Linked DNA regions of Homo sapiens: region 1 is linked to region 2. Evidence: fine-mapped expression QTL. A gene starts in region 2. The other region holds a variant in brackets. All regions are shown on one strand. Distances are from middle to middle. Region 1 overlaps CCM2 (CCM2 scaffold protein). Region 2 holds the start of CCM2 (CCM2 scaffold protein).

Region 1 (4,385 bases), 74 kb after region 2:
TATATGCCTGGGTTAAAGGAGACAAAGCCCCAGTAACCCTGCCTGGCACATGAGTGATACCTCAAAGACAGCTTTTGCTGGCTCTGGCCATGGGTGAATGTGTACTTCAGCCCAGCGTGCAGCAGGATTTGCATTTGCCAGGATCCCCAGGAGGGGTGTATGTGGGCTCAAGTCTGGGAAGCCCTGCCCTGAGGCACACAGCACATTCCAGAGTGCGGGCAGCTTGATGAAGGACAGCAGGGTCCCTGAAGACCAGGGCTGCCGCTGTCTCCTGTAAATACAGCAGTGGGCTGGACTCAAAATGCCTCCCCACTATGTCCCTGAAAGTCATCTTAGTTTTCTGCATCTTCCTTACAGATGACTCTTCTACAAAAGTGGACATTAAGGAGACCTACGAGGTGGAAGCCAGCACTTTGTGAGTGCACATGCCACCAAGCCCTGCGGTGGGACACGCACCAAATGCGTTGTCTGGTGTTGTCCAGGCTGCAGCCAGTCAGCTCCCCCATCTCAGCTCACCCTCGCTAAGCCATCCCCAGACCCACTGTACCCAGCTTAGTGAATGGCTGAGGCCTGGCTCGCCGCCCTCTCCTCGTAGACTTCTAGAGCCCTTGCTGTCCCTCTTGTCTCTCCCTGCCTACCTTCCCATGGCCTCCCAAGAGTGAGCTTGTAATAGGCATGTTGGATGGAGCTGTTCCCCTGCCCGAGCCTGCCGAGGCGCTGGCCTTCCAGCCCATCTCTGCCACCACCTGGGGCTCTGTAGTAGTTCACCCACTCGCGCTCTCCATTCCTGCCACCTCCCCAACCCTGGCTCCTTCCCCTGCCCAACAATGCTGCCCACTGCCTTGACCTGTGTACTCCCTCTCTTCACTCAGAGCCCAACTCAGAGCCATGCCCCCGGGGAGCCCCAGGACCAGGCCAAGCTGACCACCCTGCATGCCCAGTCAGCTCTCCTCTCATCATCATCATCATCACTTACATTCCTCTGTTCAAGGACAGGGACCCACACACACGGCATGGACTAGGTTTCCTGAAACGTGTGTGGGATGGAGGGTCGGGGAAGCCACCCGCTCACATACCACATTCTTTCGCAGCTGCTTCCCTGAATCTGTGGATGTGGGTGGTGCATCACCCCACAGCAAGACCATCAGTGAGAGCGAGCTGAGCGCCAGCGCCACTGAGCTGCTGCAGGACTACATGCTGACGGTAGGCCTCCGCTGCAGGGACGCTGGGCTGCATGAGGGAGGGGGTGCCCCAGGGAGGATGGGGGGAAGGGGAGGAGGAGGAGGAGCAGTGCAGGGCAGGCTGCAGTGAGTGAGGTCACCTAGAGCACTCTTGGTCAATTTTGCTGACATCACTGCCTTTTCCTGGGGATAGTCTAGGAGAGCATCAGTCAGTGGGGCTGAGTTGGGAGTGCTGTGGCCGTCAGGGCTGGACTGTGGGCCTGTGCTTGGGTCCTGGGGGAGGGGAGGGAACGGTGGCCCCTGCAAGGCCACATGGCCAGACATTTTTATCCTCCCCATCTTATATAGTTCTGTCATTGCAAACTCAAGTCTTCCTGATTTGCCTGTGTGCCTGTGTGTAGCCTAAGGGCACAGGCATTGGCCCCGGGCCAGGTTGCCAACTTCCACCCTGCCCTGCTGGCTCCTGTCCCTCCCATGCACTCTGTGTTCCAGCTCAGGAGAGTGGAGCTGCCCGGGTGCCTTGGTCTCCTCTGGGTGGCCCCGTGCCAGGTCTGGTAGGATGGGGACACATTGTGGTCATTCTGATGCCCCAGCCTGTGCAGAGGTGAAGCCAGAGACAGCTGGTGCTCTGGCTGGGGTTAGTGGCTGTGGCAAGGTGGGCCCGACTGCCGACTCTTGCCTACTGTGCCCAGCCCCCTATCTGGCTCTGCTCTCTTGCAGCTGCGCACCAAGCTGTCATCACAGGAGATCCAGCAGTTTGCAGCACTGCTGCACGAGTACCGCAATGGGGCCTCTATCCACGAGTTCTGCATCAACCTGCGGCAGCTCTACGGGGACAGCCGCAAGTTCCTGCTGCTTGGTGAGTGGGCCCTGGAAAGAGGGTGGCTTGTCCAAACCTGGCTTGGAGAGGCTGATCCCTCCTGGGAATGTGCACACGGACCCCTCAGTGGGTGCAGCAGGGGCTCCATCAGGGATGGGAGATTTGAACCAGAGATGGCATGAGAGCAGAGTCCAGAGATCGGGGAATCTGCTGTGATTAGTCAGAAGGGCTTTTCCCAGGTACTGTTGGGGGCCC[A/G]CCGACAGGCCTTCATTCTCCTGGGAACTCAAGCTGAGCTGGGTGGGCCCTGCCAGGAAGTAGCAGAGATCCCCCAGGAGCAGGGCTGGGAGTGAACACAACCCTGAGATTTAGGAAAACAGTGCTGGAGGAGCCAGAGAGGCATGGGTTTTGGTGAATGTGTAGGACTTCAAGGCGGAAGGACCAGCGTTTGCCAAGACCCCTAAAATGCTCGGCACATTAGGTCAGTGCGGCTAGAGGGCTGTGTGGTCTGAGCAGCAGAGTTGGATGTTGGCCCCACACCTCTCAGGGGCGGTGACTTAGCTGTGGTTTCCCTCTGCCGACACTTAGAACACAGCAAGTTTGCGGTAATGTGTTGCTAGTAGCCAGTTGAAGGCTTCTGGGTCCTGGCCTGTTTTCCCTGCAAACCAAGGAAGGTGGGTTTGTTAACCATCGTACCGACCTGGCAGTGGCAAACGTGGATTGCCTGCCCAGGGCTCCCCGCTCTTAGGAGCGTGAAGGGCTGGAGGCTGGGGCAGCCTGTCTGTACAATAGGTTCTGTCTAAGCAGTGCCTGCCCCTTCTGTGCTGGGCCCTGCGTTGCCTCCTGGCATGGGACTCTGTCTGCCCCTCCACATCGGGGAGTAGAGATTCTGAGAGACACACTAGGCTTCCCAAATAAGAGGGCAGCCCTCTGAGTTGGGACAGTCACCTAGGTCATGGCAGGGAAACTGGACTTTGGCATGAGGCCTGCCTCTGAGGACTGCACCCTTGTTGCCGGGTGCCAGCAGGTGGCTTTGAGCACTGCTCTGGGCCTCAGCTTTCCCCACTGTAAAATGGGTCCTTTGTGAGGACTAATAGAGAATGAGAGGAGGCCACAGGTTCTTGGCCTGTGCTGGTGCCTTGAGGCCAGGGAGTGTGCATGTGGCAGAGGCAGTAAGCTGTCAGGGCCAGCAGCAGTGTCTGTCAAGAGTTGAGGTTTTAGCCAAACTGTCTGGCCCCAGGAAGCATGATTTCAACCAGGATGCTAGATGCAGTGAGCATGGCATCAGGGTCCCCAAGGCCATGCACCAGGGGCAGCTGTGGCCCTGTCAGGGGGCTTTGAGCCCTGAGAGAAGAGCTGAGTGGGCTGAGCCGAACTGGAGGTGCCATGCTGGGTGTTGTGTGTCTGCAGGTCTGAGGCCCTTCATCCCTGAGAAGGACAGCCAGCACTTCGAGAACTTCCTGGAGACCATTGGCGTGAAGGATGGCCGCGGCATCATCACTGACAGCTTTGGCAGGCACCGGCGGGCCCTGAGCACCACATCCAGTTCCACCACCAATGGGAACAGGGCCACGGGCAGCTCTGATGACCGGTCGGCACCCTCAGAGGGGGATGAGTGGGACCGCATGATCTCGGACATCAGCAGCGACATTGAGGCGCTGGGCTGCAGCATGGACCAGGACTCAGCATGATGGACAGTGGATGGGGGGGCACCCACACCTTCCGCGCAGTCGTCATAGGCCTTCCCAGAAGGAGCTGCCCAGACCTGCGTGTCAGCCCTTGGTGGTGGCCAGGGAGAGGCGCCCGGTGCAGATGGCCCCGGGCGGCCCAGGTCCTCTACTGTGAAGGAGCAGGGAGCTGCCGAGGGACACGAGCCTCAGTGCGGGGTGGAAGGCTCTTTGCCTTGTCCACCAGGGCTCAGCCAAGCCCTGCAGTGTGTCCCCGCTCGGGGAGGGCCCGGCCGAGCGGGCAGGGAGAGCCAGTCCTGTCGGCTGGGCCCTTGGACGGCTGTCAGTTTTGCACATGATGTTCCTATTGTAACTCTCAGAGACCTTAAAAAGAAGTTTACTGCAATGTGAATAATTTAATCTCTGGTTGCCAAGCATGTTTCTGATCCAGTTGGGTGAAAGCCATCGGTGCCAGGAGGGGTGTCCGCTCTAGCCTCTGTCCCTGGGTCCCCATCTGCCCTGCAGCACCTGGGACTCGGCAGTGGTCCCTGGGGGCTGGGGTGGAGGAGGCAACAGGCTCTTGTGCCACAGGAAGGACTTGATTTGGACTTGAGCAGTGTGGATGTGGGGCAGGAGCGGGTGTTCTGAGGCCTTTCGTGGGCAGCGTGTGTGAGGGTAGCGTGTGTGGCATGTGTTGGGGGCACCTTGATCTTTACATCC
Region 2 (4,385 bases):
GCCTGGGCAACATAGTGTGACCTTGTCTCAACAAAAATATACTAAAATTAGCCAGGCTTGGTGATGCGTCCTTGTAGTCCCAGCTACTTGGGAGGCTGAGATGGGAGGATTGCTTGAGCCCAGGAGGTTGAAGCTTCAGTGAGCCATGACTGCATCACTGCACTCTAACCTGAAGGACAGAGTGAGACTTTATCTCTAAAAATACAAAAGAAACAAAAAATTATTTGTCAATTAAAAAAAAACTGGCAGCTTTCCTAGTTTTCGGTCCTGCTTCCAGCTTAGGAGCAACCAGAGAAAGACAAATATGTGCCCCTAACCAATCACTTGGGATGCCCTGCCCCTTGCTTCCCCAGGCCAACAGCCTCAAATGAGGACATCCCTGGAGGCTTCCCTTTTTTCACTATAAAGCTTACCCACTCCTCTGCCTGACATTGAGTCTCATCCAAATACAAATGATGGTGGCTGACTCCCTTGTTATAGCAAGCTAACAGCCTTTTTGCTTTTCTCATTTTATTGTCTTTATTCCCAGTTATCACCATCTGATCATTAGCCAGTGGACTTTTGCTTGAAGCATGAACCTGTGTATGCAAAGACAGGGCAAAGGTATTCTGATGGATAAGAACAGCCTGAGGAAGTCAGCACATCCAGAGTTAGGCTAAGAGAAGTTTTAGTAGTGTTGTTTACTGTATTATGGAGTGATAAATATGCATTTGTGGAAGACGGTGGAAGACTTTAAATATCAGGCCTTTGTTCTGTGAATGGTGGGAAAATAATGACAACCAGATGCGCTACATCATTTGCGTGTGTAAATGTGGCAAGCTGGATTATTGCAGAAGGCAGATTGAAAGGGTGTTTCCACTATCTCTGCTTTATCTTGCAGAGAATGGAATACTTATGCCTTTGGAGAGGTCTAGAGACCAAGTATTTCTTTTGAATATCAGTATAACATAGGCCCAGTCAGGAGACAGAAACACAGTAAAGAAAAGTTTAATATAAAGAATTATTAGGCCGGGCGCGGTGGCTCACGCCTGTAATCCCAGCACTTTGGGAGGCCGAGGTGGGCGGATCACCAGGTCAGGAGATCCAGACCATGGTGAAACCCCGTCTCTACTAAAAATACAAAAATTAGCCAGGTGTGGTGGCTGGCGCCTGTAGTCCCAGCTACTCGGGAGGCTGAGGCAGGAGAACGGCGTGAACCCGCGAGGCAGAGCTTGCAGTGAGCCGAGATCCACGCCACTGGCACTCCAGCCTGGGCGACAGAGCAAGGCTCCGTCTCAAAAAAAAAAAAAAACCACCAAAAAAACACAGTTTACATTCTAGCTGTGCTACAAAGTTCTTACCGGCAGATTGGTTTAGTGGCAAAATAGCAGACCTGCTGGTGACTCCAATTTGTAGTGTGCTTTTGGGCGAATCACCTCATTCCCCGGACCTCATCTGGAAAATGTGGAAATTATACCGGATGACTGGTAAGGTTCTACGATTTTATTCTGATAGGGTCTGCACATCCTTGTGGTTGCACTTCTATTTTCCAAATGTGTTTGTCTAAGGCAGGCAGACTTTATAACAGAGAAGTACTAGAAAACGGATTCCCTGTGGCTCAGGGAATAAAGTGGGACACAAGAAAAAAGAAAACCGCACCGCACCCAGACTCTCGGCGGGACGCCCCGCCCCTCAACAGTGGCCGCCTCCTCGCGCCCCTCCTTCGCCATCTGCCGGCCGCGTCCCCTCCCGCCGGCCCCCGTCCCCCGTCCCCCGCCCCCCGTCCCCTTTTCAGAGACCTGAGCTCCGCCTCCCTGGACGCGAGGCAGGCTGGGAAGTCGGCCGCCGTAAAGATGGCGGCAAATTGAAAAAGTTGGAGCTGCTCCCGCGCGCGCTCCCGCGCGCGCTGAGTGGGCGGAGCGAACAGGGGGCTGGACAGGTGCGTTCTCGCGGCCGTGCAGAAGCGAAGTAGGGGTAGGAGCGTTTCCGGCTCTCCTGAAGGACGCGGGGCGGGGTGGGGGTGGTGCAAGGCAGGCGCGTTCTCGGCCGTCCTGAAGGGGCAGGATCTTCAGCCTGTGGGCGGTGCTCTCGCCGTGAGCGGGGCCAACGGGCCGTGTTCTCCCTGAAGGGGCGGGGTCTGATCGCTGCGGGTCGGATTCCCTTGGGCCTGAAAGTGAGGATGAGCGACAACCGTGGGCGGGGCCTGCGCTGGGGAAGGTGGGGCCTGGGCGGGGCGGAGGGGGCTCGGGCCCGGAAGTGCGGGTGTGGGGCGCGGCCGGGGCGGAGACTTCGGGCCCGGCTGGCGGGCGGCGCCGGGAGCGCGGGGGCGGCGGGCCCGGGTCGAGCATGTAGCGGCTGCTGGCGGCGGGGCTCCCGGGGCGGGCCGGGCGGGCCGCGGGAGCCGCACGCGGCGATATGGAAGAGGAGGGCAAGAAGGGCAAGAAGGTGAGCGTGCGCGGGGGCGTCCTACTGCTGTGGTCGGCGGGCGGCTGGGTTGAGGGGCCAGGGTGGGGTGGGCGGGTGTTCCTTGGGGCCCGGGGGGGGGGGCAGTGGGCCAGCTGGCGGGGCGGGGCGGGGCAGGGCGAGACCCCGGACAATGGTCAGGTGGGCTTTCGCGGCCGGGCGGGCAGGAAGCGCCGCGCCTTTCCTCTGGCCCGGGCAGCGGCTCGCCCCGACCTCGGCCCCAGACGGCCTTCCCTGCGCGTCGGGACCTGGGGCTGCAGAGGAAGTGGGCCCGGCGAGGGGCCAGAAAGCTGTCCAGGGCTGGAACTGGAGCTAGTGGGCTGTGTGGTTAACGTGGAGACGTTTGCTGCTCACTGGACTTCGTTTTTGGATATCCAGTAAAAGCAAGGGTGGCCTTCACCTTATGGCCAGCTCACTCGTCCACTATCACTCAGACCTAAAACCATTGATTGATTTTAGTGACGCTAGCTACATTTGGCAGTGGGATTTAGGACATAGTTCATAGTCAAACCCCAGTTTATGTAGTTTTACAAAATGTGGCTTTAATTACAGTAAAGGGTTATAGTAGTCGATAAAGAAACATTTTAAGACTGGAAAAACGATGTGGATTGAACTACCATTAAAGTGGAAAATGGATTTTAATAAAATGTATCTTTTTCAAATAAATGCTTTATAATCTTCACGTCTTGGCTATCATTTTCTTTTTGATGTGTGTGTGCGCACTTTTATCCACAAGTTTAAAGCAGACCTCGATAATTCCTAACTATGATTTTACTACCCTGAACTCTGCAGGGAAGTGTCCTTTAATTGACAGCTACTCACCACCTTGTTTGACAGAGTGCCCCATTTAAAAGTCCTGTTTGAAATAGAATGTAGCCAGGTGGCCTTCAGGGAGTCCTGTGGTGCTGGTTCTCTACTTTCTCAACTCATTGTTTCATGTTAGCACCATGCATGTCTAATTTAGGTGCAGTATAATTTGCGGTTATCTACAAAGATGTTTTAAGTCTGGAAAATAGCTCAAGATAGTGATTCAGCCTGCAGGTGTTAGATTAGAGATGCGTGCTGCGCACAGAAGAGGGAGGAGCCAAGCAGTGTAAAAGGAGTTAGCTGGAAAGGAGAGGTGCTAACCCGGTGGCTGCTTAGTAGGGACCATCAGGCCCGAGTGTGGATGATGCTGAGCTTTGCGGAAAGTGAGCCATGTGCTCTGTGGAATGCCGGGATCCAAGAGCGCGCTAAGGACTGATGACCTCATTGTGCACCGCTTACAGGAGTACCTGGCCCATCTACCTGTGTGTGATAGGCAAGGATGGAATTGAGTGATTTTTTTTTCTAGAGCTGTCTATCAGCTTTGGTAGAAACATGAAACACCCAGCAAATAGGGAGAGAGAGAGAGAAGCAGTAAGACTGTTTTTGGGGTACAAGTGAAAAAACAGTAAAATTATCAAGAATTTTCCAGTTGGGTAATGAAAAAATTTAGGCATAAACAGGTTAATTATTAATTTCATTTTCTCACTAGAGGAGATAATCAGTTGTTATGTAGTTGCTTAAGCCAGGGGTTTTGTGTTTTTTCTGTATTCTGCCACTTGTCTTAGCTTGTTTCCTGTAGACAAGCCAGACAAGGAGCTTTGGGGCATGGATTCTTCTCCAGGTCATGACTTAACACTACCTCGTGTACTCTGCCAGTTGCAAGCTGGCAGAACCTTCCTGCTCAGCTACCACATTCAATGTGAGATCACCTCCAGTTTAATAACTTCGGTGGTTAAATCATTCTCATTAAGGTAAATTGCATTGCTCTAAACTTATACACAAATTCAGACATAAGTAGCAGAAGTGCTGACAATAGTTTTATGAAGGTACAGTTTGGACGCTTAAATTCTTCTAAGTTAGCTTCTTCAAAAAATGCAGAATTAGGCTGGGTATGGTAGCTACGCCTGTAATCCAGC

The links. PIP is the estimated chance that this variant, and not a neighbour inherited with it, causes the effect.
Region 1: its variant is the best candidate, but not a certain one, in a credible set for the expression of CCM2 in whole blood (INTERVAL, PIP 0.90).

Annotation. Positions count from the first base shown.
Region 1 is chr7:45,072,369-45,076,753 of GRCh38, forward strand. CCM2 (CCM2 scaffold protein) reads left to right here. Exons shown (of 10, transcript NM_031443.4): 7 at 358-415; 8 at 1,092-1,203; 9 at 1,902-2,040; 10 at 3,409-4,085. The coding sequence ends at 3,689. Among named protein-coding and RNA genes, the nearest start is that of NACAD, 14 kb to the right of the region's middle. RefSeq lists enhancers at 120-779, 780-1,439, 2,037-2,206 and a cis regulatory region at 2,122. The variant A/G (reference allele first, on the strand shown) is at 2,257.
Region 2 is chr7:44,997,940-45,002,324 of GRCh38, forward strand. CCM2 (CCM2 scaffold protein) reads left to right here and starts at 2,262. Exons shown (of 10, transcript NM_031443.4): 1 at 2,262-2,424. The coding sequence starts at 2,395. LOC102723334 (a long non-coding RNA gene) reads right to left here and starts at 2,069. Exons shown (of 4, transcript XR_428139.4): 1 at 1,779-2,069; 2 at 1,341-1,434. RefSeq lists silencers at 1,529-1,578, 2,209-2,738.